Regions from separate parts of the Homo sapiens genome. Here all the other regions are reported to be linked to region 1. The links are microRNA targets in miRTarBase. Many come from high-throughput screens and were not tested one by one. Region 1 holds a microRNA gene; each other region holds the end of a gene's coding sequence.

Region 1 (7,115 bases):
ACTTGGCAGATTTTCTTTTCATTCTTACCATTTCAGGATAGAATCCAAAATCACTCAACACATAAAGCTGAGAAAATGTTAACTCATTCTTTCTTTTCCCCGCCTGACTTTATTGCCCGGGCTGGAGTGCAGTGGTCACATTTCAGCTCACTGCAACCTTGACCTCCTGGGCTCAGCTGATCCCCCCACCTCAGCCTCCTGAGTAGCTGGGACTACAGGTGTGCAATACCACGCCCAGCTATTTTTTAAAATTTTTATAGAGTCAGGATCTTGTTGGTCTCAAACTCCCAGACTCAAGCAATCCGCCTGCTACAGCCTCCCAAAGTGCTGGGATCACAGGTGTGAGCCACCCTACCCAGCCTAATTTTTTTTTTTAGAAACAAGGTTTTTCTCTGTTGCCCAGGCTGGAGTGCAGTGGTGCGATCTTGGCTCACTGCAGCCTTGAAATCCTGGACTCAAGAAAGCCTCCCTTCTCAGCATCCCAAGCAGCTAAGACTACAGGAATGTGCCACCATGCCCAGCTAACTTTAAAATTTTCTATAGAGACACGGTCTGGCTTTGTTGCCCAGGCTGGTCTCAAGTGATCCTCCTGCCTCAGCCTCCCAAAGTGCCAGGATTATAGGTGCAAGCCACTGCTCCTCACCAAAATGTGACTTATTCTTTTTTTTTTCTTTTTTGAGACAGAGTCTCACTCTGTTGCCCAGGCTGGAGTGCAGTGGTGCAATCTCAGCTCACTGCAACCTCCACCTTCCAGGCTCAAGCGATTCTCCTGCCGTAGCCTCCTGAATAGCTGGGACTACAGGCACGTACCACCACGCCTGGCTAATTTTTGTATTTTTAGTAGAGATTGGGTTTTGCCATGTTGGCTAGGCTGGTCTGGAACTCCTGACCTCAGGTGAGCCACCCGCCTCAGCCTCCCAAAGTGCTGGGGATTACAGGCATGAGCCACCATGTCCGGCTAAAACCTAGATTTTTAGAAAGGAATGAAGACCACTGGAAATGGTAAATACCTAGGTAAAACACCATTTTTTGCTTTTTTGTTTGTTTGGAGACAGGGTCTTGCTCTGTCACCCAGGCTGGAATGCAGTGGTGTGATAAGGGATCATGGCAGCCTCAACCTCTCAGACTCAAGTGATCCTCCCAACACAGCCTCCTGAATAGGTGGGACTACAGGCGTGAGCCACCATGCCAGCTAAGTTTTTAGAAATTTTTTGCAGAGACGGGGTCTATGTTGCTCAGGCTGATCTTGAATTCCTTGGCTCAAGTGATCCTCCTGCCTTGGGTCATGGTCACCAAAGTGCCGAGATCACAGGAGCCAACCCTTTCTGATGTCTATTTTTTTTTTTTTTTTGAGACAGAGTCTCACTCTGTCACCCAAACTGGATGGAGTGCAATGGTGCAATCTTGGCTCCATGCACCCTCCACCACCCAGGTTCAAGCGATTCTCCTGCCTCAGCCTGCCAAGTGGCTGGGATTACAGGCGCGCGCCACCACACCCAGCTAATTTTTTTGTATTTTTAGTACAGATGGGCTTCACCATGTTGGCCAGGATAGTCTTGAACTCCTGACCTCAGGTGACCCGCCTGCCTCGGCCTCTCGAAGTGCTGGGATTACAGGCGTGAGCCACCAACCTGGACTGCCTATTTCCTTGGGGTAATGAGTCCGGGAGTTTGCCACCTGATGTTTGAAGTAGCACCTCACAACTTCATTCTTCCTAAACTTGGTTTAAATTTCAAGGGGGCCGGGAGTGGTGGCTCACGCCTGTAATTCCAGCACTTTGGGAGGCTGAGGTGGTTGAATCACCTGAGATCAAGAGTTTGAGACCAGCCTGGCCAACGTGGTGAAACCTCATCTCTACTACAAATACAAAAATTAGCTGGGTGTGACGGTGTGCATCTGTAATCCCAGCTAGTTGGGAGGCTGAGGCAGGAGGATGGCTTGAACCCGGGAGGAGGAGGTTGCAGTGAACTGAAATTGCACCACTGGACGTCAGCCTGGGTGACAGAGTGAGACCCTGTCTCCAAAAAAAAAACTTTCAAGGGGATCCCATGTCAACAGAAAGGTTATAACACAGTTAAAGGAGAGGCCTGGTGTGCAGCCGCAGCTACACGAGCAGCACGTGCTGCAACCTGCTGCAAGTGACGAGCTGCCATCAGCGTTATTCGCAGTCTTCATTTCTGGAGGGCTAAGTTCCAACCTTCAGTCAGAACTCTTTTTTTTTTTTTTTGAGACGGAGTCTCGCTCTGTCTCCCAGGCTGGAGTGCAGTGGCACTATCTCGGCTTGCTGCAAGCTCCGCCTCCCGGGTTCACGCCATTCTTCTGCCTCAGCCTCCTGAGTAGCTGGGACTACAGGCACCCGCCACCACGCCCGGCTAATTTTTTGCAGTTTTAGTAGAGACGGGGTTTCACCGTGTTAGCCAGGATGGTCTTGATCACCACACCTCGTGATCCACCAGCCTCGGCCTCCCAAAGTGCTGGGATTACAGGTGTGAGCCACCAGGCCCGGCCTCAGTCAGAACTCTTTTAGTGACATCATTATCTTTAAAAAGCAAACAAGGTGGCCGGGCACGGTGGCTCAAGCTTGTAATCCCAAAACTTTGGGAGGCTGAGGAGGGCGGATCACCTGAGGTCAGGAGTTTGAGGCCAGCCTGACCAACATGGAGAAACCCCATCTCTACTAAAAATGCAAAATTAGCCGGGCGTGATGGCACATGCCTGTAATCCCACCTACTCAGGAGGCTGAGGTAGAAGAATCACTTGAACCCGGGAGGTGGAGTTTGCAGCGAGCTGAGACCGTGCCGTTGCACTCCAGTCTGCGTAACAATAGTGAAACTCCGTCTCAAAACAAAACAAAATAAAAAAAAGCAAACAAGGCTTTGGGAGGCTGAGGCAGGTGGATTGCTTCTTGTGGCCAGGAGTTCGAGACCAGCCTGACCAACATGGAGAAAACCTGTCTCTACTAAAAATACAAAATTAACTGGGTGTGGTGGCACACACCTGTAATCCCAGCTACTCAGGAGGCTGAGGCAGGAGAATCGCTTGAACCCTCGAGGGGGAGGTTGCAGTGAGCCGAGATCTCACCACTGCACTCCAGCCTGGGTGACAGAGTCAGACTCAGTCTCAAAAATAAATAAATAAATAAAAATTAAAAATTAAAAGCAAACAAAAAGGGTCACGTTTTACAAATCCAGCGTATCCCAGTCCGTTCTGCTGGCAGCAGCCCCAGGGCCCGCACACATGCCTAGGCAGACAAGACCGCACACGTGCAGGGACGCTGAGCTTCTGAAATGGCGGGGACCCGTGTCCTCCCTCCCTACGCCAGGGCAGCCACTCTATGACCTCGGCTCCTTCACAGCCCTGGCTGTAGCCTGAGGCCCCCGCATGGCGGGCATCCCCACCAGACGTTGGCGGACGAGAGCCCTGCTGACGCCAGCCCCTTCCCCCACCACACCCACCACACTTCCCGGTCCGACGCAGGACTACCTGTTCCCGGGCAGACACAGAGCACAGAGTGCCGGGTCCCACGTCAGCCCCTGACGCACCTGCCGTCTCTTCAACACCCTGCCCTGCTCCCTGCTGGCTGGAGAGCCCTCACTCAGACCCCAGAGCCCTGAGCCTGCTCTTGGGAACCTCCCCTGCCACACAGCCGGGTGCGTCCTCTTCCGTGGCGCTGTCCTGTGCGTCCTCTTCCGTGGCGCTGTCCCGGGCCCTGGGCACATGTCCACACAGCCGGGTGCGTCCTCTTCCGTGGCGCTGTCCCGGGCCCTGGGCACATGTCCACACAGCCGGGTGCGTCCTCTTCCGTGGCGCTGTCCCGGGCCCTGGGCACATGTCCACACAGCCGGGTGCATCCTCTTCCGTGGCGCTGTCCCGGGCCCTGGGCACATGTGCACACAGCCGGGTGCGTCCTCTTCCGTGGCGCTGTCCCGGGCCCTGGGCACATGTGCACACAGCCGGGTGCGTCCTCTTCCATGGCGCTGTCCCGGGCCCTGGGCACATGTGCACACAGCCGGGTGCGTCCTCTTCCGTGGCGCTGTCCCGGGCCCTGGGCACATGTGCACACAGCCGGGTGCGTCCTCTTCCGTGGCGCTGTCCTGTGCGTCCTCTTCCGTGGCGCTGTCCCGGGCCCTGGGCACATGTCCACACAGCCGGGTGCGTCCTCTTCCGTGGCGCTGTCCCGGGCCCTGGGCACATGTGCACACAGCCGGGTGCGTCCTCTTCCGTGGCGCTGTCCCGGGCCCTGGGCACATGTGCACACAGCCGGGTGCGTCCTCTTCCGTGGCGCTGTCCCGGGCCCTGGGCACATGTGCACACAGCCGGGTGCGTCCTCTTCCGTGGCGCTGTCCCGGGCCCTGGGCACATGTCCACACAGCCGGGTGTGTCCTCTTCCGTGGCGCTGTCCTGGGCCCTGGGCACATGTCCACACAGCCGGGTGCGTCCTCTCCCCGGACACGTCGGTGCCATCACAGCTCAGCATTCATTTGCTCAACAGTTACGATGCATCGATCACATGCCTCGCTCTGTTCTCAGAGCTGGGGACTCAGTGGTAACAAAATAAACCAAACAGGCAAAAATCTCCGCCTGCGGCAGCTTGCAGTTTAGCAGGTCCCTGCTCCTCAGAATGCAGCAGCTTGCAGTCTAGCAGGTCCATGCTCCTCAGAAGACTTAAAGATCTTCAGGGGTAAAAAAATAAAATAAAATACGTGTGTTCTTATTTCTGTACTTCCAGGTGCAATCTCAGTGTGTGCAGCAAACGTTTTATAAAAGAGCTGCTGCTGAACTCAAACTACTGTTGGGGAAAAACTGTGGCCAACTTTGTAAGAACAGATATGAAAACATCTTAAAAGGAAGTCTATTTTTGTTCTGTTTTAAATATTTTACTATGTATTATGTGAAATACAGAAAGAAATATATGGAACATATCAGCCGGGCGTGGTGGCTCACGCCTGTAATCCCAGCACTTTGGGAGGCCAAGGCGGGCGGGTCACAAGGTCAGGAGATCGAGACCATCCTGGCTAACACAGTGAAACCCCGTCTCTACAAAAATACAAAAACATTAGCCAGGCATGGTGGTGGGCGCCTGTAGTCCCAGCTACTCGGGAGGCTGAGGCGGAGAATGGTGTAAACCTGGGAGGTAGAGCTTGCCGTGAGCCGAGATCGCGCCACTGCACTCCAGCATGGGTGACAGAGCGAGACTCCGTCTCAAAAAAACAACAAAAAATATATGGAACATATAAATTATGACGCATAAACACCATGATCCCGTCTCTAATTTAAAAACTGGAAAATTATCAATAACTTGGAAGTTTCATTTTCCCCATATATACCTTAAATTCAATGCTATTCTCTTGCTTCTAAAAAATTACCTCATGTTTATCCCTAAACGCTAATTAGTTTTAATTTTTTGAGCTTAAAAATACGGCCTAGCACTGGATTTACTTTTCTGTAATCTGCTTTTTTTTTCCTTTGAGACAGGGTCTTGCTATGTTGCCCAGGCTGGCCTCAAACTCCCAGGCTGAAGTGATCTCCCACCTTCAGGCTCTGAGTAGCTGGGACTATAGGCACACAGCATCGTGCCTGGCTTGATCTGCTTCTGAAACGCCTACGTTCCTAAGATTCGTCTACACTGCAGATTGTAGCTACAATTCATTCATCTCCAGTGTGGTCACATTCTATTCTGTGAATAGACCACAACTGATCCATCCACTCTTGCACCGAAGGACATCTGGGCTGTTCTCAGCTTCTGTTACCACCAAGTTGCTTGGAACATTCCTGAGCAGCAGGCGCGGTGGGTGGCGAAGGGCGGACAGCGTGAAGCTGATGCAGCTACCGTGAGCAGCACAGACACTGGCAGGAGGAGTGGGCGACCGTCACAGCAACAAGCAACTGAGGCGTGAGAAGACAGGCAGTGCCCCCACTCCCTGGGAAATGCAAATTAAACCACAGAGCACTACTAGGTACACACCTATCAAAACTGCTTAAAAAATAATCCCAGAACTTTGGGAGGCCAAGGTGGGCAGATGGCTTGAGGTCAGGAGTTCAAGACCAGCCTGGTCAACATGGTGAAACCCTGTCTCTGCCAAAAAATACAAAAATTACCTCGGTGTGATGGCGCATGCCTGTAGTCCCAGCTACTCAGGAGGCTGAGGCAGGAAAATCGCTTGAATCCGGGAGGCAGAGGTTGCAGTGAGCCGAGATCGCGCCACTGCACTCCAGCCTGGGCGACAGAGCAAGACTCCATCTCAAAAAAAAATAATAATAATAAGGCTGGATGCAGTGGCTCATGCCTATAATCCCAGAACTTTGAGAGGCCAAGGTGGGCATGTCACTTGAGCTCAGGAGTTTGAGACCAGCCTGGACAACACAGCGAAACCCCATCTCTACAGAAAATACAAAAGTTCTGCATTTTTTGTATTGCACCTGCAGTCCCAGTTACTCGAGAGGCTGAGGCAAGAGAATCGCTTGAACCCAGGAGGCGGCGGCTGCAGTGAGCCAAGATCACACCATGTATTCCAGCCTGGGCAACAGAGTGAGACTCCATCTCGAAAAAAAGAAAAAAGCTAATTTTAAAAAAGTAATAGAAGCCAGGTGTTGTGGGAAGTCAGGGACCCTGAACAGATGGACCGGCTGGAGCTGTGGCAAAGGAACATAAATTGTGAAGATTTCATGGACATTTACCAGTTTCCAAATAATACTTTGATAATTTCTTAAGCCTGTCTTACTTTAATCTCTTAATCCTGTTATCTTCATAAACTGAGGATGTACATCACCTCAGGGCCACTATAATTGTGTTAACTGTACAAACTGTAAAACGTGCGTTTGAACAATATGAAATCAGTACACCTTGAAAAAGAACAGAATAATCGTGATTTTCAGGGAACAAGGGAAGACAACCATAAGGTCTGACTGCCTGTGTGGTCAGGCAAAATACAGCCATATTTTTCTTCTTGCAGAGAGCCTATAAGCGGACGTGCAAGTAGGGAAGATATCACTAAATTCTTTTCCTAGCAAGAATTAATACTCTGGGAAAGGAATGCATTCCTGGGGGGAGGTCTACAGAAGGCTGCTCTGGGAGTGCCTGTCTTATGTGGTTGAGATAAGGACTGAAATACGCC
Region 2 (7,115 bases), not on the chromosome of region 1:
ACCAGCTCCATGCTGCTGACCAGGCTGGAAGATGGGGTGCCCGGGGTGCTTGTCTCTGATGCTTTCTCTGTGCCAGGGGTCACTAACTCATGAGTCCGCCGGGCCCCACGGGTCAAGCAGCTGCCCCCTGGTGCAGCTGCTTCCTGCTTGGCTGACTCCCATGTGTGCCTGGGGCCTCCAGCTCCTCTGGCAGCTAGGAGCTTGAAGTTGAGTGTCAAATTCCCCATGAGCCAAACAAAACCCCACCTGGAAGCCAGTCTTGGCTCACAGGAAGCTGGGATTTATCCCGCGCTGCAGGCCTCTCCTCCACAAATGAGATTCAGCGTGGTGGCTCCAGCCAGCGCTGTACACGTGCTGCTCAGGCAGCTGCCTCTCCCACCAGGGCCTTTGCCTGAACCCTCCTGGTACATCCCCATCTGCCTCATGCCCAGTTCAGGTGCCCCCTGCTCTGGGAAGTGGCTCCCTGGTACAGAGGGGGCATTCCATAAATGCTTGAAGAATAAATCAACAAGCAGGCGAGGGCAGTGCCGCTGTAACCTGTGTGTCTGGTGTCTCCAGGGCCTGGAGTCCCTCGGCTGCATCCGGAAGCGCTGGCTGAGAAAGCCAAGGCCTGTCTCGCTCTTCTCTACACCCGTGGTGGAAGAGGTGGAAGTGCCCTCCAGCCTGGACGAGAGCCCCATGGCTTTCTATGAGCCCACCTTGGACTGTACCCTCCGGCTGGGCCGTGTGTTCCCCCACGAGGTCAACTGGAACAAGTGGATCCACCTCTAGGACCCCTGTGGGCGTCCCCTCCCTCCCAGCCACCGCCTGCCACACCACTCCTGCCTGGTGCTCGGCAGACCCCACTGTGCCCTGGCCTTGGGTCTGCCGAGCCTCCTGCAGCAGGGGACGGGTGCTTTGGCCAGAGTCACAGACTGACACGTTTCCCACTGTACTGGAACTCTGGAAAGAGGGGCTCCCCGACCTGCCCATCCCCCAGGCTCTTCTGGGCCTTCCCCTTGGGAACTGGCCTCATCACACTGGGAGTTGGTGCTTCTTGTCTCTGGGTCTCCAGAGTTTGCCCCGCCTGTGCACACCTCACATTCCAGACTCTAGCCATCTCGGCAGGATCTCCTGGCTCCTTGAGTGCCCAGGTGCCACCAAGAGGAAGGGCCTTGTGGGATACACCTTGCAGAATAGGGATCGGTGTGCCCCGCTGCGAGGGGCCCCCCATGGGGGCTGTGGCCCCTCCGCAGGCAGGACATCCCAACCCCTGGCTGGGACTGAACCACCCAGAGCGGAGCGGCTCCCTTTTCAGCCTTGTGAGTCACCTGGCAGGCCCCAGCTGGGCTGGCTGTCCGTGTCCCTCAGCCTGGCTGGTGATTCCTTGCAGGCCAGAAATGAAGAGTCCCTGTAGGTTTTGGTTTTGTTTGTTTTATTTTGTTCTTTCACCTTTTTTCCTCATTAAAAAAAAAAAGTCCCTGTGGAGTGTACTTATTTATTTTTTGATTAAAGGGAAGTAAAATGCATTCTGTTTTGTGTGTTTCCTAAAGAATCAGTGATTCCCCTAGGGGACTCCCTGCTTTGGCTGCAGAACAACCTGGAATGGCTGTTCCCATTGAAACCAAAGGAAGAGGGAAGGCCCTGATCCTAAGCTCGGCAGCCCCGCCCAGCCTCAGCCAGCAGGTGAGAGATGGCCTCCAGGATGGAGAGGGGCACAGGCAGCTCCCTCACCACCTTCTCAGCTGGTCCCAGGCCTGTCCCCCACAGAGCAGCTCCCAGCCCAGTGCCAGGCCCACGATCAGCTCAGCTCAGCACAGCTGGTGTTGGCAGGGCCTGCGGGATGGGTCTGGCCCCTTGAAGTTCTCTTGAGCTCACATTGTTACATTTTTTTAAGTTAGTTGCCAACATTTTTAAAATGTAGAGTTCACATTTTTTTAAAAAAAATTCAGATTTCTGTCTTCTCTTAAAATGGAAAGTTCCAGTAACAATGGGCTTAGCTTCCTGCCTGTGGCAGTCAGAAGTGCTAAGCAGAGGCCACTCCCTCTAGGTGGGATGTGCCCCGACCTGGCCAGCTGTGTCTCACACCCACCTGCAGCTTCTCTCACCTAGAAAAGTGTCCCCTCTGGGGAACATGTACCCCTGACCTGACCCACCTTCCAACCTATGTCTCCATCCTCCCTCTACGAGGGACCAGGGCCCTGGTCACTCTGGGCCACACTTCTGGATGAGGAGGGACAAAGGCAGGGACTTGGGAGTCAGAGTCCTGAGAGTGAGTCCCCGCACTGCCTAGCCTGGTCAGGTCTTAGTGTCTATTTTTTTTCCCTTTAAAGTTTCATTCAAGTGTAGAAACAATAGTGTTCTATGGGATTTTTTGAGGCAATCAAGTAGAATAGTGGATGTGGTCTGCTTCATAAATAAAATACTGTACAAATACTAATTATTTGGGAAAGTGTGGCATGGTGGAAGAAAGGTTTGGGAATCCAGTAAGTGTTTCCTAAAAAACTGACCCTGCATTCACATTTCAGAGCCTTCGTTTTGTCGTCTGAAAACTGGGGGAAGAGTATCTCCCTCAAGGGAGGGCCAGATGAGCTGAAGAGCACCGGATGCAAGTGCATAGTCGGGTTCAGCAAGTTTCCTTCTTTGCCTGTGCCTCCCAGATGATGGAGAGTGTGGGCATGTGTTGGGAGATGGGACATAGGGATGGTGGGGACAGCTCTCAGATGGTGAAATGGGGCTTCTGTGAACACCAGTCCACATCCCCATTCTGCCCAAGGATAATCTGTTGCTTCTTCCCCTCCCTCCTACCCATCATGAAGCCCCTCATCTGCCCACCCATCTGTCCATCCATCCATCTGCACATCCATCCACCCAACTATCCACCTACCCATCCATCCATCCATCCATCCATCCATCCATTCGCCCATCCATCCACCCACCATCCATTCATCTGTGCATTCATCTACACATCCATCCACTCATCTGTCCATCCATCCATCCATCCACCCACCTACCCATCCACCCATTCATTTGTCCATCTGTCCATTCATCCACCTACCCATCCATTCATTCATCTGTCCATCCATCCATCTACCCATCCATCCATCCATCCTTCCAAGACAGCTCTCTGCCCCTCCAAGCTCTGCACAGAAATCTCCAGAAGCCACAGCATTGACCAGTAGTTGTGAGCTGAGATGCCTTCAGGGGCCAGGCAGGTAACAAATGAGAGGAAAGGGGCCTTGGGTTAAATACTAGGGAGTGATAGCAACTGTGGAAAACTAAAATGTGTATGCCCAGGCTGTGAAGGAATGCAAATTTGAAAGAAACATTAAGCACTAACTACCAAACAAAACCTACGAAGGGGCAAAAATGGGTCTCTGGCCCTTTTGCAGCTGCCAGAACAGTGCTAGGTGGTGGCTCCTGGTCTCCTGCAGAGAGGCCAGGGAATGCACAGCCCAGATGGGCACCTGCACGAGGCCCGGACACCTTGGCTTTGTGTCCCCAGCTTCCATATACCCCCCAGTCTTGCCCTCCTCACTCTTAATTCTTTTTTCTTTTTCTTAGATAAGCAAATACATGAATGCATTGTCTGTTAAATACAACATTTCAAATCTGGCTAAAGCCTGTGGGCCCCTCTCCTTCAGGGCCCCTCCCACTTTCCCTCTTCCCATTTCCATCCATATCTGTCTGTGCACGCCCTGGGAAGCCCGGGCCTGTAACATAAAACACGCCCTCAGCACGGCTCACTCACCGACCCCCTGGCACATCTGCATCAGCATGCCTATTATGGGAGTGTTTTGAGGAAGTAGCCAAAGCTTTAGTGGAAAACCACCCAGGAAAGCTTCACCAGAGAGTCCTTCTCCACTACAGCAATGCCCCTGCTCACTCCTCATCAAACAAGGGCAATTTTGCAAGCGTTTCCATGACAAATTATTAGGCACTCACCTTATAGTCCTGATATGGCTCCTTCTGACTTCTTTTTGTTTCCTAAAAAAGAAAAAAAAAACTTTAAAGGGCACTTTTCTTCAGTTAATAATGTAAAAAGATGGCATTGCCATGGTAAAATTCCCAGGACCCTCAGTTTTTCAGGGAGGGGCTGAATGGCTGGTCTCATCGCCCACCAAAGTGTCTTGACCTTGATGGAACTTATGTTGAGAAAGACAGTTTGTTTCTTATTTTTAATCTTTGAATTCATTTTCCATGAACTTTTTTTTTTTCTTTTTCTTTTTCTTTTCTTTTTTTTTTTTTTGAGACAGGGTTTCGCTCTTGTTGCCCAGGCTGGAGTGCAATTGCGTGATCTGGACTCACTGCAACCTCCGTCTCCCGAGTTCCAGCGATTCTCCTGCCTCAGATTCCGAGTAGCTGGGATTACAGGCATGCGCAACGACGCCCGGCTAATTTTGTATTTTTAGTAGAGACGGGGTTTCTCCATGTTGGTGGTGTGAGCCACCGCGCCCGGCCTCCACAAACGTTTTGAAGTCGCGAATGTGTGTATCTGTGCACATACATGCTGTGTATGTATGTATTTGTGTGTGGGCATGTGTGTGTGTGAGTGTGCATGTATGTGCCTGCGTGGAGTCTCCCTCCTTACCTCCAATGCCCAACGCAGGTCCATCCACCCAAAGGGTAGAAGTCAGCCTTTGTTGAATTAAGCAAACCCCTGCCAGTTCACCCTGTCCTCATCGCCCGTATTCTCTACCGCAGAGGGCTGCTGTGGTGATTGTCCAGGGTCCCCTTTATAAGCGCCAGGCAGATGCACTTCTGTGGCCCTTTCCCCCTGGACAGCAGAGCGAGCGGGCACTGCCTTCAGCCGACACCTGCATATTGCAGTGCTTACCAGCAGGTGGCAGCAGCCACCCAAGCGTCTCTGTTTCCCATTACTTCGCCTTGGTTTCCAAATGTCAGGTGCTCTTGGTCCATACAGGCTCCAGGGTGAGGCCAGTAAGAACTGACTGGGGCAGGGCATGACTTATCCATAAAATGGATGATATCCTAGCAACAAGATTTCCTGAGCATCTGCCAGATGCCAGACACTGTTCTGGGCACATTACACACATTAACTTCTGGCCCCACAATAGCCCTAAGACGTCTGCCTGATCAGTATACTCATTTCATAGATGAGGAAGCTGAGGTGCAGGAGGTAAAATCATGTCCACAGGGCTGGAGGCTGGAAAGCGGATCTGCTGGTATTCCCAGTCTGCCAGCCTCAGGGACCTCCCCATCACACCGCCTTCCAGGGATGGGATTTGTTTTGGGGTGGGGGGGGAGCCAGCATTGTGCTGGGAGACTCCCTAAAGAGTAGGATGAAAGGGTTTCTTATCTGGGGTCATCAATTTTTTTTTTTTCTTTGAGACAGAGTCTCACTCTGTCGCCCAGGCTGGAGTGTAGTGGTGCGATCTCGGCTCACTGCAACCTCCGGCTCCTGGATTCAAGTGATTCTCCTGCCTCAGCCTCCAGAGTAGCTGGGATTACAGGCGCCCACCACCACACCTAGCTAATTTTTGTATTTTTAGTAGAGACGGGGTTTTGCCACGTTGGCCAGGCAGGTCTCGAACTCCTGCCCTCAGGTGATCCACCCACCTCGGCCTCCCAAAGTGCTGGGATTACAGGCATGAGCCACCACGCCTGGCCTGGGGCCATCGATTTTTGAAAGAACCTTCACATTTGTCACCCTTAGACACAGGGGGAAGACCTATGATTGCCCCATGGTCTGAGCAATGAAGGAAGGGCTCTTGCTCTCATTACAGACTCCCCAGGAGGCGGCCTGTTTTCATCTCCACACCTCATTCTGTGCCCTTTCTAGGTCTGGGGCAGATGGTTGCCTCCTCTCTCCATACTGCTTTGCCAGTCACTGCTCTACCATTGATTGATTCATTCATTCATTCACTTATTCAATATTTTTTAGCACCTGCTCTATACCAGGCACTATTCTAGGCTCTGAGACCCAGCGGAGAATTAGATCCCTGCTGTAGTGGCGATAGACAGTAAATATGATGGATAAATAACACAAATGTATGAGAAGGTATAATAAGTGTGATGGAAAAAACAAAACCAGGCAGTGGGGTGTTGCACTTTGAATAAAGGACCCAACCCAGAGTGGAGAAGGTGACGTCCGAGCAGACTTGACTCCATCCTCTCATCTTACACGAATGCGTGGGTGTTTCCTGATGGCAGACAAGTCCTCTCCTTGTTCTTTCCTGTCGAGAGTTTAAAGGAAGCGCCTGCTTTCTTTCCTGTCGAGAGTTTAAAGGAAGCGCCTGCTTCCTTTACTGTCAGTGGAATGGGCTCCTGGGAGGGGCAGTGCACGTGCTCACTGCTCCATCTTCCACCGGAAGTCCCCTTCTTGGGTTCCACCGGTGCCCTGGGACTGGGTGGGCTGTGCAGGGTTGTGCCATACCATGGGGCCAGCAGCCGGGCTCAGGCAAACAACATCCCCAGATAGGAGGGAGGAAGGGGCTTTCACCTCCAGCGGGGGGACCAAAAGGAGCTCAGGAATGGGGCAGAGCATGATGGACTCCAGGCAAATCACTGCCTTTTTCTGGGCCTTCACTTCCCTCTGTCTCCTTCCCTTGTTAGAGCATCTGGGACCCCCAGACAGCATCCCAGGCTGAGATCTCGCAGGAACTGTTGATGGTTGGAGAGCTGGGGTTATGTGTTCGTTGAATCCCAGCAGAAAGCAGTGCAAGCTTCAAGGCATCTGGAGGGAAGCATTTATGAACTCTCTGGGAAGGAGATTGGGAAGGGCTGGGGCCACAGCCCTCTTCTCCTCTGACCTGGAGCCTAGCTCAAGGTGATGATAGAAAGACAACGCACCTCTGGCCGGGCGTGGTGGCTCACGCCTGCAATCCCAGCACTTTGGGAGGCTGAGGCGGGCAGATCACTTCAGGTCAGGAGTACGAGACCAGCCTTGCCAACATGGTGAAACCCCGTCTCTACTAAAAATACAAAAATTAGCCAAGTGTGGTGGCACGTGCCTATAATCCCAGCTACTCAGGAGGCTGAAGCAGGAGAATTGCTTGAACCTGGGAGGCGGAGGTTTCAATGAGCAGAGATCACGCTATTGTACTCCAGCCTGGGTGACAGTGTCAGACTCTGTCTAAAAACCAAACAACAAAAACAAAAAACAAACAAAAACA
Region 3 (7,115 bases), not on the chromosome of region 1:
TCCTTCCTTCTAATTATTAACACTGTGTGCTCCGTGGGGCTCCCATTATGTTGTAGATAATCAACTAGAAGACTATAAGGTCCATGAAGGCGGAGAAAATGTGCCTTGAACTTAAGTGCTCATTCACTGGAATTATTCACTAATTTGTATTTTTAATATACTCTCGGAATTTATATAACATAGCCTGTATTTCTAGCTGCTGCTACCCCACAATAAAATTATATAAACTCTGACATCAAAAACCAGTTTTTCTTTCCTTTCTTGGCCTTGTAAACAGGCATTTGTCTAAGAGACTGTATCTGGTACTAACATAAATTCCCCACTTCCCCGTTTCTGTTACAGACATGTCATGCTGCCCAAGGACATAGCCAAGCTGGTCCCTAAAACCCATCTGATGTCTGAATCTGAATGGAGGAATCTTGGCGTTCAGCAGAGTCAGGGATGGGTCCATTATATGATCCATGAACCAGGTCAGTGCACTGGCTAAAAACAACCATATAGAACTGCTACACTGAGAGAATGAAAGAATAAGATTGTATAACCCAAATAGGGAGATAGGAAATGGTTTACTGGTTCCTTCCCCCTCCAGTCGTGGGGGATTTTTTTAAAAAAAAACTAGTGACCAAAAATAAGACTAAAATATCTGGGAAGTTCAGAGACAACCTGTCACTGAAAAACCTCCTGTAATCTTTCATTCAATCAGAGGGTATTCTTTTTAAGGCCACATATAGCCTGATCATAGCCCCTGCCTCATTCTCCATCGAAAACATTCTTGGATGTGTTCTAAATAAGCAAAGGAAAGTATATTTATTGATAAGACACCAGACACCCAGCTGCCAGGCAAAACTAATAAGGGACACCCTGGGGCTGTATAAACATAGCAAAAGAACTGATATTAACAATTCTGTACTTGGCAGACAGTCCAGACTTCTGGGTCTGCTTCTAAGGCCATATGCTTAAGTCTTTATTTAGTTATAAAGATCTGAGTGGGTGATAGCTGGGGAGGTGGTAGTGGAATACACTATAGGTTGTACATAGAATGGTGTGAGCTTGTCTCTTAGATTTCCCTCACTCTTTCAGAACCTCACATCTTGCTGTTCCGGCGCCCACTACCCAAGAAACCAAAGAAATGAAGCTGGCAAGCTACTTTTCAGCCTCAAGCTTTACACAGCTGTCCTTACTTCCTAACATCTTTCTGATAACATTATTATGTTGCCTTCTTGTTTCTCACTTTGATATTTAAAAGATGTTCAATACACTGTTTGAATGTGCTGGTAACTGCTTTGCTTCTTGAGTAGAGCCACCACCACCATAGCCCAGCCAGATGAGTGCTCTGTGGACCCACAGCCTAAGCTGAGTGTGACCCCAGAAGCCACGATGTGCTCTGTATCCAGAACACACTTGGCAGATGGAGGAAGCATCTGAGTTTGAGACCATGGCTGTTACAGGGATCATGTAAACTTGCTGTTTTTGTTTTTTCCTGCCGGGTGTTGTATGTGTGGTGACTTGCGGATTTATGTTTCAGTGTACTGGAAACTTTCCATTTTATTCAAGAAATCTGTTCATGTTAAAAGCCTTGATTAAAGAGGAAGTTTTTATAATCTAGTGCTGTAATTGTACGGGTTTTTTCCCCCTCACTCAGGGTGAGCATCATCAATATCATGGTTCTAATTATATGCCCTTCAGTTTGATAATGAAGCTCAGCTCTTTGCTGATAATGAGGTTTAACATTGAGATAACTGGTTTTTAATCTACTTTAAGCAGACTTGCTGTCAAACATCTACTGAAATATATTTCACTCTAACTACTAGCCTGAGGTAGAGGTTATATAGGGACAACTTCATCTCATCCAAACAAATGAACTGCTTCCTACAGTCGGGGTGCTGCCTTTAACATAGTCCCAATATTTGAATGGCACACATGGATAAAAGGATGCTGTCAGTCAGGGGCTGCTTGTGTGTCCCAATTCCTAATAGGAATAATAGGCATATCTATGACCTATTCACTGTGCCCCTTGGTTGGGGAAGGTTTTCAGCTGTTCTTAACTTGGCTTGGGCGTTGGAATCACCTGGGGAGCTTTACAAGTACTGATGCCTGCCTGAGTCATTCTTAAGGATTCTTAATTGGTCTGGAGTGTGGACTGGGGGTAAAGATTTCAGGCATCTTATGCAGGTAGGTAAAGAACTAAGCTTTGAGAAAACAGGTGCAAAATGTAGCTGTTTAAGAAAACATTCCAGGCCACACGTGGTGGCTCACACCTGTAATCCCAGCATTTTGGGAGGCTAAGGAGGGCAGATCACTTGAGGTCAGGAGTTCGAGACCAGCCTGGCCAACATGGTGAAACTCCCGTCTCTATTAAAAATACAAAAATTAGGCTGGGTGCAGTGGCTCATGCCTGTAATCCCAGCACTTTGGGAGGCTGAGGTGGGTGGATCACCTGAGGTCAGAAGTTTGAAACCAGCCTGGCCAACATGGTGAAACCCCATCTCTACTAAAACAAAATTAGCCGGGCGTGGTGGCACACGCCTGTAATCCCAGCTACTCCGGAGGCTGAGGCAGGAGAATCACTTGAACCTGGGAGGCAGAGGTTGCAGTGAGCTGAGATCACGCTATTGCACTTCAGCTTGGGCAACAAGAGTGAAACTCTGTCTCAAAAAAATAAAAATAAATTAGCCGGGCGTGGTGTGTGCCTGTAATCCCTGCTACTCAGGAGGCTGAGGTGAGAGGATCGCTTGAACCCGAGAGGCAGAGGTGAAAGTGAGCCAAGATCACACCACTGCACTCAGCCTGGGCGACAGAAGCTGTGTCTCAATTTAAAAAAAAAACATTCCACAGAATAATAACTTCCCCTCTAGTCTAACAAAACAGTAGTACTAAGTGGCCGGGCGTCGTGGCTCACGCCTGTAATCACAGCACTTTGGGAGGCCGAGGCTGGCGGATCATGAGGTCAGGAGATCGAGACCATCCTGGCTAACATGGTGAAACCCTGTCTCTACTAAAAATACAAAAAAATTAGCTGGGCAAGGCGGTGGGCGCCTGTAGTCCCAGCTACTCGGGAGGCTAAGGCAGGAGAATGGCGTGAACTCGGGAGGCGGAGCTTGCAGTGAGCCGAGATTGCGCCACTGCACTCCAGCCTAGGCGACAGAGCCAGACTCCGCCTCAAAAAAAAAAGAAAAAAAAATACTAGTACTAAGTAAGGATATTAATCTCCCCCATTTTTCCTGTCTTCCATCCACTTATTCCTAAAATAGCAGGCATCAACATCGGGAAAATTCATTAGAAATGCAAATTATTGGGCAACAACCTAGACCTACTGAATCCTAAACTCAGGATTGGGCACAGCAATGTTTTAACAAGCTCTCCAGCTGATTCTGATGTACACTTAAGCTTGAGAATCCACTAGGAAAATACTGGAACAGTCTTGGTATTCTGTTTTGGGAGGGGATCAAATATCACCTGTATTGCTAATAAAGATATTGGAACATGTGGTTTACTAGGCAAGTGGAATTCTTGTTTTGCCCTTTTTTTTTTTTTCAAAGAGCTGACTTTTTATAATTGAAAGAAATGAGGGCCAAGTACGGGGGCTCACACCTGTAATCCCAATACTTTGGGAGGCCAAGGCAGGGAATCACTTGAGCCCAGGAGTTCAAGACCAGCCTGCGCAACATGACCAAACTCCGTCTCTACTAAAAATACAAAAATTAGCCAGGCATGGTGGGGCGCCCCTGTGGTCCCAGTTACTCTGGAGTCTGAGATGGGAGGATCACTTGAGCCCAGGAGGTCGAGGCTGCAGTGAACGGTGCTTGCGCCACTGCACTCGAGCCTGGGCAACAGAGAGACCCTGGTTCAAAAAAAAAAAAGGGAGGGGGGGCTTATTACTTAAAAGAATGGTCTAGACACCTGATCACCTGGGTCCACCATTCACTGTGTTTTGTGGTTGTGTGGCATCCCTTCACCTTTCTGAGCCTGTTCCTCATCTGTAAAATGAGCATGATGTGTATCTTACAGGGTATTTTTTTTCTTTTTGATGGAGCCTCGTTCTGTCGCCCAGGCTGGAGTGCAGTGACACAATCTCGGCTCACTGCAAGCTGCGCCTCCCGGGTTCACGCCATTCTCCTGCCTCAGCCTCCTGAGTAGCTGGGACTACAGGCTCCCGCCACCACGCCCGGCTAATTTTTTGTGTTTTTAGTAGAGACGGGGTTTCTCCATGTTGATCAGGCTGGTCTCCAGCTCCTGACCTCAGGTGATCCGCCCGCCTCGGCCTCCCAAAGTGCTGGGATTACAGGCGTGAGTCACCGCGCCCGGCCTTTTTTTCTTTTTTTCAATTGAGAGAACTCAAGCAATCCTCCCTCCTCAGACTCCCAAAGTGCTGCGCCCGACCAAGGGTTTTGAAGAGTAAAATTTGGCAAGGTGTGGTTTACCAGTCCTACAAAGAATGAATTCGGCCCGGCGCGGTGGCTCACGCCTGTAATCACAGCACTTTGGGAGGCCGAGGCGGGCGGATCACGAGGTCAGGAGATCGAGACCATGCTGGCTAACACAGTGAAACCCCGTCTCTACTAAAAAAAAAATGAAAATAAAAAAATTTTTAAAAAAAAGCCGGGCATGGTGGCGGGCGCCTGTAGTCCCAGCTACTCGGGAGGCTGAGGCAGGAGAATGGCGTGAACCCGGGAGGCGGAGCTTGCAGTGAGCCGAGATCGCGCCACTGCACTCCAGCCTGGGTGACAGAGGGAGACTCCGTCTCAAAAAAACAAAGAATGAATTCGGGCCCTTACCATTCAAAATGTAGTCCATAGAGCAGTGGGATCACCATCACATGGGAACTAGCTAAATGCAGATCTCAGGCCCCACCCAAACCTACTGAATCAATCTGCATATGAAAAGATCCCCAGATTATTGTTGGAAAAAAGTTTAAGATGTACTTTTAGAACAAAGGCAACTGAAATGGGGGTAAGCTCGGATGATGTGAGGATCCAGAGTAAACATGTAAGGCACTCCCTATTCGCTGCCTCATTTGCACCTACAAGACCAATTACTGGGAAAGGTCATTTGAACTAAGCACCATCTGGAGCAAGGTGGAGGAAGAGAGGGTTTTTGGACTCTTTCTTGTCAAAGAGATTTAAGTAATTCGTTTTGTCTACTATACTAGAGATAAATTAAGGTTCCACACATCAAAAGCTCACCTACTCCAGGGTCTTCATATCCGACAGACAGTGGTAATAATCTTTCTCGGTGTCCCTCCAACTTCCTTCTGCTATAAATAAGATGCTTTCTCACTCCAGTAAAAGCCCTTAGCCTAGTGTTAGAGTCACGGTGAATGAAAACAGCTTAAACCATGGCTAACTGACCCATTAAACAAAACAAAACAAAGCAACACATGCATAACAATTATTTGAATCCAGCACCAGAAACTCCCCGAGGGCCTTACAGCACCTTTAACTACGGCTCCTTTCCCGCCCTAAACTCCCGAGGTCCCGCCCCCGACCGTGGGCTAAGGTCCGGCCCCCGTATTTCCGGGCGAGAAGTGACCACGTGGTTGTCGCCTATAACAATCCGGCCCTGCTCCCATCCACTGGCTAAAGCCTGAGAGCGACAGTTGAATACACCAATGGGACCCTGGAAGAGTCTAAGCGACAGCCAAAATCACCATTCAATGTCAGCTAGGTGCAAGGCGGGACTTTAAGTACGGAAGCTGCCCCGGGACATGAGGAAAGGAACAAGGGAAAGAGCCGGTGAAGGGGCAGAACAGGCAGGTGAGAGTCTAAGAGGGCTCAGTAATCTGAAGCTTGGTGGGAAGAAGGGATTCTGGGCTAGAAAGGGTGCAGAAGCCTGAAGTAGAAAGAGACGGGATTTTGGTCCGGGGTGGAGAGCGAATGCATTGAAAAGGGCCAAGGCCCAGGATAAGGTAGACATTTAAAGGGGTACGGATGCCCAAGGTAGAGCAGACACTTGAGGAGACCAGCTCAGCAAACGGAAGACACTTAAAGTGGTAGGTTCTCAAGAGAGAAGAAGTTTTTAAGACTAGAGCTAAGCAAGACATTTAAAAGGACATGGGTTGGGATTTGGGAACACGTTTATTCCAGAGGCAGGAACAAAGGAGTCGCTTGTCAAGGATCTGGTTAGAGAAGACTAGGGTCTTCCTCGAAGGAAGCACGCGCACGCCTGCTCTCCCCCATTGTCTTTTCTGGCTTCTCCAGGTTCCCTCGACCCAGGACCCCCTGTTCCCAGGCTATGGCCCCCAGTGCCCTGTAGACCTGGCAGGCCCCCCGTGCTTGCGACCCCTATTTGGGGGTCTGGGTGGCTACTGGAGGGCCTTGCAGAGGGGCAGAGAAGGCAGGACCATGACATCTAGGGCCTCTGAACTTTCTCCGGGGCGCAGCGTGACGGCTGGCATCATCATTGTTGGAGATGAGATCCTTAAGGTGTGTCTGGGACAGAAAAGGGGGGAGGGCGCTGCGTTCTCCTGTCCTTAAGGGCCTGCTGCACATCCCTCCATGGAAGGAGGTGAAACAGGGTGGGAGCCTCTTTGCTGCAGTAGGATCCTGGAGTGAATCCAGCATATTGGAGGAAAATTAACCCTCATTCTTTCAATTACTCTACTGAAAAACTTGTAGCAAAGTCCCTACAATTTTTCAACCTGAGAGAGCTGATTGAAAAAAAGAAAAATAAAAAGGTCATTGCAATTTACCAAGCAGTATGGTAGAGGGCAGAGGAGCTACACAACAATGACAGGAAGCCCCTCGAGTAGAGGAGGTACAGGTGTGTGTATTGTATATTTAAGAGTTTTGGCCGGGTGCGGTGGCTCACGCATGTAATCCCAGCACTTTGGGAGGCCGAGGCGGGTGGATCACGAGTTCAGGAGTTCGAGACCAGCCTCAACATGGAGAAACCCCATCTCTACTAAAAATACAAAATTAGCCAGGCGTGGTGGTGCATGCCTGTAATCCCAGCTACTTGGCAGGCTGAGGCAGGAGAATTGCTTGAACGTGGGAGGCGGAGGTTGCAGTGAGCTGAGATCGTGCCATTGCACTCCAGCCTGGGCAACAAGAGCGAAACTCCGTCTCAAAAAAAAAAAAAAAAAAAAGAGTTTTACCCAGCCTTTTTGGAAATGACTC
Region 4 (7,115 bases), not on the chromosome of region 1:
TCCCCTCTCCGCTTCTGCTTTTCCTGAAGGAGAGTTCTGAGCATCCAAAGGCTCCTCACTTACCTCACTGACTCCCTTTATTTCCTGGGTTTACTTTCCCCATTAACACTGACATCTAAATCTCTAGAGGAGTATGTCATCCCTTCCTCCCTGGTTCCATATTCTAAGTTTCAGAATCATGATCTTTTTCTGCACTAACGTCCCACAGTCCTCAGAGTTTCTCACAGTTCATTGATGTGTACTGAGTATATAATTTATACTTAGCCCCCACGGCGGGGTGGTTCTCAGAAGTGGAAGACAGGTGGGTCTTTGGAGAACACGGTGGGAATCTTGGTGCACTGACTAACTTGATGGGCGCTTGGTTCCTCTTCCAGCCAGCTGAGGTGGGTGTCCTGGTTGGCAAAGACCGGTCAAGTTTTTACGTGAATGGGCTGACACTTGGGGGCCAGAAATGTTCGGTGATCCGGGACTCACTGCTGCAGGATGGGGAATTTAGCATGGATCTTCGTACCAAGAGCACCGGTGGGGCCCCCACCTTCAATGTCACTGTCACCAAGACTGACAAGAGTGAGTTCCTGAGTCTTACCCTTCCTTTAGCTCCAAGATCTCTAATGTACCGCCTTCTGGTAATCTTGAGGGTGCTTTTTTGTGTGATTCCCCAACATGAAGGGAGTCAGACCAGTATTGTGTTCCTTGTCTGCTGGATGCTGGAACACGGGATAGTCCCTCCATTCTGTCTCAGTTCCTCATCTTGTAATTCGAAGTTGCTGAACTGCATTACCTCTTAAATTACTTACTGCCTTGAGCTCGGATTAGAAACTGTTTTCTAGGAGTATAGGTAGATTGTTGGGGTCTTGAATCATCGAGTTCATCGTTTGAGTTCTTTTGTTAGAACCTGGAGGTGGCATGCACATCCACAGCCCTTTCTAGCCTGAACACATGAATCAACAGTCTATGAGCCTTTGACCCCTAAGTTTTTAGTCTGTTCCTCTCCAGCGTTTAAGCTTGATTTTCCTCTTTTGAAAAGCCTTATTGTTTCAGGGTGACTGACAGCCTGCCTGTGTGTGGTGGGGGGGCGGGTTGGGAGAGATGAGGTTGGGTTACAGCCCCCAGGGCTGGACAGCTGCTGAACAGCTGGCAGGGGGTGGAATTGTGACACCTGGATCCTAGCCTCCTTTCTCTTTCCTCCTCCTCCAGCGCTAGTCCTGCTGATGGGCAAAGAAGGTGTCCACGGTGGTTTGATCAACAAGAAATGTTATGAAATGGCCTCCCACCTTCGGCGTTCCCAGTACTGACCTCGTCTGTCCCTTCCCCTTCACCGCTCCCCACAGCTTTGCACCCCTTTCCTCCCCATACACACACAAACCATTTTATTTTTTGGGCCATTACCCCATACCCCTTATTGCTGCCAAAACCACATGGGCTGGGGGCCAGGGCTGGATGGACAGACACCTCCCCCTACCCATATCCCTCCCGTGTGTGGTTGGAAAACTTTTGTTTTTTGGGGTTTTTTTTTTCTGAATAAAAAAGATTCTACTAACAAGGTGCTGTGTGATTTGAGCTTGGGTGTCAGAATGGGGGATAGGCACTGTGACTTGCCTCCTTTATCGTGGCTTGGGAGCAGGGAGGTTGAGGTACTACAAGGTGCAGGAATTTGAGCTTCTGGCCAGGTGGCCCTGCCCCTCCACAGTGGCATTTCCAGGCCTAAGTCCTCAGTGTGCTGGTCAAATTGGTGGATGATGGAATAGAGCCATCTGGACCAGAGAATGGGTGCAGGCCTGCAGGCAAGGCAGGGCTAGTTGAGTCATCCTTGTGGGTGGGGCTCCCCCTTCTGAGTCATAGCAAATGCCGGCTGGGGCTGTCCCCATGACTATAGGTTAGTGTCTCTCAGCATTCCCTTGCTCCTTATGGCTAAAGGGGTGATTCCACCAAAGGGTTAAGTTCACCTGTGTGAGAATGATCTTACCCTTCCTTAGTCCACAAAGAAACAATTTTATTAGCCCAAGAAGTGAAGACCCAGTCCCTCTGCTTGCCCCAGCTCCACCCCAAAGCCCCTCAAAAGGATAGGTGTGGGTAAGGGAGAAGCTTGGGATGGAATGTCCCCTATCCCTCAGAAGACTGGAGGGAAGACGACGGTCTGTGCAAATAGGTCACCAGAGGTGTATGTGTGGGGGGTTATTAGACCAGGATAACAGGGGAAGAGGGAGGGGACAGTGGGGGATCTGTTGAAGGCCCAGGAAAAACAAGGGGAGCTGGGGCTAAGGAACCAAAGGAGGTGGGAAGAGTGGGGCTAGAACCCAAAAGTGGGGTCCTTTCTGAGGCAGGGTGGTCCCTTGGCTCCCCTTCATCACCCTCCTCTTGCCCTTGAGTTTCTTCCTCTTGGTCTTCGTCCCCAGGACCCCGATGAACAGGCTGCTTGCAAATGGGGCAGGTCTTCCGGGTCTGAGTGAGCCAGGGGTCCACGCAGCGGCTGTGGTAGGCTGCAGAGAGGAACAAGGTGAAGCACCTGGTGGCTGCTGGTGGCAGAGGGGCATGGGCAGGCAGTGAGGGCCTCACCATGAGCACAGGGGAGTACCCGCAGCTTGTCCCCATCCTCATATTCATCCAGGCAAATGGCACAGACATCATACTGGTCTCCTGGGACAGAAAGAAAATAATCTAGTCCTTCACTGAGCCACAATGACCCAGGGCTAAGGCTTTTAAAGCCTTGCAAAAATTTCCCCTCACCTACAAAGCCAGTGGAAGAGATAAGACAGGTAGGCAGGATAAGGTCAGGGCAGAACATGGAAGAATTTAGGGCTAGAAGGGACAAGCAAAGAGAAGCAGAGGTAAGAAGGGAAGTGGGTTTTTGGGGAGGTGTGAGGGTGGAGATAGGGAGTGGAAGGAACGGAAATGGGCAGGGCTTCTGCCACAGCCTTATACGGGCACTGGAGGCCCCAGGGCCTAAAGCCCCAGCCCCTTGGTACCGGTTTCTTCCTTCTCTAACTGAATCCTCCCCATTCCTCCCATTTTTCTGCTCTGTCCACATCCCCTATAAGCAAAGTCTATCCCTCTATTGTTTCCCACAATTATTTCACTTAATCATCTTTGCTTTCCATCTCCTCTCCCGTCTTCGTTGTATTTATGCATAAAAACAGAAGAAAAGACAGCATCTCAAGCTGAAACCTTCCTACTGCCATCTTTATTTTTATTATTATTTTTTTGAGAAAGGGACTCCCTCTGTCGCCCAGGCTGGAGCACAGTGGTGCAATCTCAGCCCCCGACAACCTCCGCCTTCCTGGTTCAAGTGATTCTCCTGTCTCAGTCTCCCAATTAGCTGGGACTACAAGTGCACACCACCATGCCCAGCTAATTTTATTTTTTTATAGAGATGGGGTCTCACCACATTGCCCAGGCTGGCCTGAACTCCCGGGGTCAAGGGATCCACTTGCCTCAGCCTCCTAAAGTGCTGGGACTTTTCTGTTTTATCATGTCACCCAGGCTGGTCTCAAACTCCTGGGCTCAAGTGACCTGCCCACCTTGGCCTCCCAAAGTACTGGGATTAGAGGCACTTGGGATTACGTGAGCCACTGTGCCCGGCCACTGCCATCTTTGTATACCCTATCTTCTGGGCTCAAAGTCCTTCAGAACCAGGTAAACTGTGGGAAAAGCCCTCTTCTCCCCTAACCCCCTCACCCTTCTGATAGTCATGTGTAGGAATCTGTTTCAGTTGCTCTTTGGTAAGTCGATTCCGCTGGAGCCGTTTCCGGTGCTGGATACAACGAGCTATCTGGGGGAAGCGGGGGTGGATGGACAAGGCTTAGGAACAAAACTAGACAATCTAGGACAAGCCACTCCCATCTCCCAACTCCAGATCCAGTCTGGCCTCACAGGCCTCAGTGCTTCCCATCATGTTCCCTCAGCTACTCACCATTACTGCTCCCATGGCCAAAACCAGCAGTCCCACAATCCCTGTGAAAGGGATGAGGTAATAGCCCAAGGGGAAGGTATTGTCTGGAACCAGAAGCACCCGAGCCCTGGGAAAAGGATGACCAGTCTCAGCAGGGCGAGAAAGGCAAAGGGAGAAAAAAAGAGGGACAAAGTAACTGGCTCTGGACAAAGCCCATAGGTGGGGACAGGAATGGGAAGAAAGTCAAAGAGGCAGGGAAGGAAGGACAGGAGGCTGAATGGTTCGGGTAATGAGGAGGCCTGGGCTCCAGGTTGGCATGGAACTGCTTGCTGAAGGAAGAATGGGAAGGAGGCACATGTCCTACCCCTTCTCGTAGACAAAGAGGGCACGCAGGTACTCGGAGCTTCTCTCCCCAATAAATACAGACGGGATCCAGATCTGCTGCTGGATTTCCTCTGCAGGGATCAAGGTGTTACTCTGGGGACTCACAACCTTCTACTCAAATCCTCTGGGAACCCTGGCATCTTGCACTTTGGCCCCACCCCACCTAAAGGATTGGCTTCTTTTCCTGAGGCCTTCAGCCTTCCCACCATCTCTGGGTCCTACTGAAAGCCCAGCTGTATAGATTCCCCCAGCCTTACCACTATTCCACACCATGTTCAGAAGTTCATTGGAATTCACATTGTGTACTACAGCGGCACCATATCCAGCCTTCTGGGCATTTAGGACCTAGGGAGACAAGGCAGAGGACAAGGAGCCATCATGGGCCTTACCTGTCTTCATTCCTGGTGCCTTTTTTTTACCCTCAGCTGCCCAGCTCCCCTTCCTCATTCAGCAACCTTGAGGTCAAAGTTGCAGTCGAATCTTCGAAGCAGCGCAATAAAGACTGACCCATTGACCGGGGCTGGGGGTGGTGGGGCAATGGGGCTGCAGGCATTGTCTGGGTGAGCCTCCACAAGGAACCCCTGAAGGATGGAAGCAAACAACAGTGAGATTTCTCCTTTCTAGATTCTGCTCTCTACAGGGGCCACCAAACACACCAGCCCACATGCTGCACATCCTCTATCCTCACTTCCTCCTCCTTCCTGGGGTCTGAGTGAGCATCCCACCATCACAACCTTCTCTTAGCCTCTTGAAAAGGCAATGACATAAAACATCCCTTCACCAAACTCTCCCATCATCCCTCTCGCTGTCCCAGATGGGCTAATCTGTACCCTATACTGCAAGCTAATGCAATTATTTTTGCCTTCTAATATTCCAATTGTAATTCAATTCTCAAACCACCCATGTCACTTTCTCTCAAGTTCTGTTTCACAGTCCCCTCTCCAGCACATACTCATACAGACACACTCCCCTCCCTTCAGTTTTCTTTTTGTTTTTCTTTTTTTTGAGATGGAGTCTCGTTTTGTCACCCAGGCTGGAGTGCAGTGGCGCGATCTCGGCTCACTGCAACCTCCACCTTCCGGTTTCAAGTGATTCTCCTGCCTCAGCCTCCCAAGTAGTTGGGACTACATGCGTGCACCATCACGCCCAGCTAATTTTTGCCATTTTAGTAGAGATAGGGTTTCTCCATGTTGGCCAGGCTGGTCTTGAACTGGGATTACAGATGTGAGCCACCGCGCCCGGCCTCTTCAATTTTCTAATTACCCATCTCACAAACAACTCGACTGCTACTAAGGCCCAACTGAGTTCTTGCTATGTGGCAGTCTTTGGGATGAAATACTACCAAAATTGCGTATCTACTTTGATCTTCACAATAACCCTAGGAAAACTTCTAATATCCCATTTTACAGTAAAACAAACTAAGGCTCAGAGAGATTAACTTGCCCAAAGTCATATAAGCAATAACTAGCACCTGAGACCTTCCTGATAAGGACCGTTGATCCTGCCTTCTGTCTTCGTCCACTTTCAGTCTCCCTGATAACCTCGGAGTTCCAGGGGTGGACACTCTGTCTTCTCCCTCTAGATTCTGGGTTCTACACTAGACGTGCTCAGTTCCTAACTTCATTTTCCTACCTCCAGTTTCACCCAGGACAAACCTCCCCAACCCCAGCCTAGGATGGAGGATCTTGCGAAATACTAAAAAAAGAAAAAAGACAGAAAAGGAAGGAAGGGAGGGAAGGAGGAAAAGAAAAGAAAGAAAATCACCTGGAGGCCCTCCTGGCTCAAGGTAGCCCCAAACAGAGCTGGAAGGTCTGCAAAGTCCATGCTGGCATTGTGGTCCGAGGTCTGCGGACAAAAAAGGCGATGTTCCCCTTCAGCCTGCAACCCTTCCTTTCAGCGCCCTTTCCCCATCCGTCCCTCAGACTCACCGCTCGAATGAGCCCCCGGGTCGGGGCCGCTCCCCACAGCACAGCGGCCACAACCACAGGAAGCGGGAAGGCTGCAGGGTGCATGGCAGCGGGAGGAAAGAGGCTGAGGAGGCCGCGCGTCCTGGTAGCAAGGAGCAGAAGCGGAGTTCTGCGCCCTCCCTGCCCCTCCTTTAGGATCCCAGGGGTCCAACCACCCCCAGGTCCCACTTCCCAGCTACATGGGGGCGCCGGGGAAGGAACACCAACTCAAAGAATGAGATATCCAACCCGTTTAGTGGAGCTGGGTGGGAGGCACTAAATGTATCCTTTTCTGGTACGGGGATAAAACGCGGAAAGGGGACGGAGCCTAACACAGGTGACAGAAAAACTTCGGGAAGGGTGGCGGAGCTCAAGGAGGTGGGACTTCCTGCTAGGTGGGCCGTGTTCCCAGCCTCTGGAAAAGGGCTTCCGGTAGAGAAAATCAGGCCGCTTTCAGCATTGGATGCTTGAGATGAAGGACTTCCGGTCCTAAAAGGCCGGTTAAAAAAAGGTTAGCGATGGAGGGACTGCCTGTGGAGATGGAAGGGGCACTGGTGGCCCAGAAGACGACCTAATAAAAGTGCCCGGAAACCCGGAGCCTCCTAGTTTACAAACCTCTCCTCCCTCTGGCCTCCGCCGCTCCTTCAAATCTCGCGAGAGTGCTCACCACCTCTCCCGTCCCCTCGCAGCTGAATAGTTGCTGTGTCTATCGCGAGAGCGCTCCAACTTGGCGAGCCGTACTCACTCGATCTCGCGAGACCTTCAAACAAACTCTTCTCTATTTTCCCGCGATTCTAATTCGGTGAAAACAGCGCCTTTCCTCTGGTTTCCAAATCAGTTACGCCCCTTCTCGCACGCTTCCATCAAGCTCCTCCTTCAGCTCCGCCTTACTCCCG

What was found. The annotated mature microRNA hsa-miR-941 reads CACCCGGCUGUGUGCACAUGUGC and lies in region 1 at 4,189-4,211, opposite strand. An mRNA with a match to its seed (bases 2 to 7 or 8) in the 3' UTR can be bound and repressed. Matches are read on the target gene's strand: a 7mer-m8 pairs with bases 2 to 8, a 7mer-A1 pairs with bases 2 to 7 and ends in A, and an 8mer does both.
Region 2: miRTarBase lists GTF3C1 as a target of hsa-miR-941. The part of its 3' UTR that is shown has no 7-base or 8-base seed match.
Region 3: the mRNA of CKS1B is a reported target of hsa-miR-941. Seed matches in the 3' UTR shown: 7mer-m8 at 1,483-1,489.
Region 4: the mRNA of PFN1 is a reported target of hsa-miR-941. The part of its 3' UTR that is shown has no 7-base or 8-base seed match.

Annotation. Positions count from the first base shown.
Region 1 is chr20:63,916,703-63,923,817 of GRCh38, reverse strand. It overlaps MIR941-3 (microRNA 941-3), which reads right to left and starts at 4,257; the gene lies at 4,186-4,257. The region is part of intron 1 of DNAJC5 (DnaJ heat shock protein family (Hsp40) member C5); the gene reads right to left. LOC124904951 reads right to left here and starts at 6,059. Exons shown (of 1, transcript XM_047440634.1): 1 at 3,383-6,059. The coding sequence starts at 4,418. The coding sequence ends at 3,480. It overlaps MIR941-1 (microRNA 941-1), which reads right to left and starts at 4,369; the gene lies at 4,298-4,369. It also overlaps MIR941-2, MIR941-4 and MIR941-5. RefSeq lists an enhancer at 3,362-4,064.
Region 2 is chr16:27,455,006-27,462,120 of GRCh38, reverse strand. GTF3C1 (general transcription factor IIIC subunit 1) reads left to right here. Exons shown (of 37, transcript NM_001520.4): 37 at 559-1,508. The coding sequence ends at 771. Among named protein-coding and RNA genes, the nearest start is that of IL21R-AS1, 5.2 kb to the right of the region's middle. RefSeq lists an enhancer at 5,020-5,069.
Region 3 is chr1:154,977,645-154,984,759 of GRCh38, forward strand. CKS1B (CDC28 protein kinase regulatory subunit 1B) reads left to right here. Exons shown (of 3, transcript NM_001826.3): 2 at 343-470; 3 at 1,081-1,607. The coding sequence ends at 1,133. FLAD1 (flavin adenine dinucleotide synthetase 1) reads left to right here and starts at 5,700. Exons shown (of 7, transcript NM_025207.5): 1 at 5,700-6,422. The coding sequence starts at 6,051. RefSeq lists enhancers at 3,755-4,352, 4,953-5,550 and a silencer at 5,433-5,612.
Region 4 is chr17:4,940,080-4,947,194 of GRCh38, reverse strand. It overlaps PFN1 (profilin 1), which reads left to right. Exons shown (of 3, transcript NM_005022.4): 2 at 375-567; 3 at 1,198-1,543. The coding sequence ends at 1,295. It overlaps RNF167 (ring finger protein 167), which reads right to left and starts at 6,927. Exons shown (of 10, transcript NM_015528.3): 1 at 6,835-6,927; 2 at 6,202-6,708; 3 at 6,038-6,118; 4 at 4,729-4,854; 5 at 4,531-4,618; 6 at 4,254-4,344; 7 at 3,911-4,016; 8 at 3,676-3,769; 9 at 2,557-2,637; 10 at 1,973-2,480. The coding sequence starts at 6,285. The coding sequence ends at 2,179. RefSeq lists enhancers at 756-835, 1,506-1,675, 1,736-1,825, 1,836-1,885, 2,756-2,805 and 3 more and a silencer at 6,483-6,677.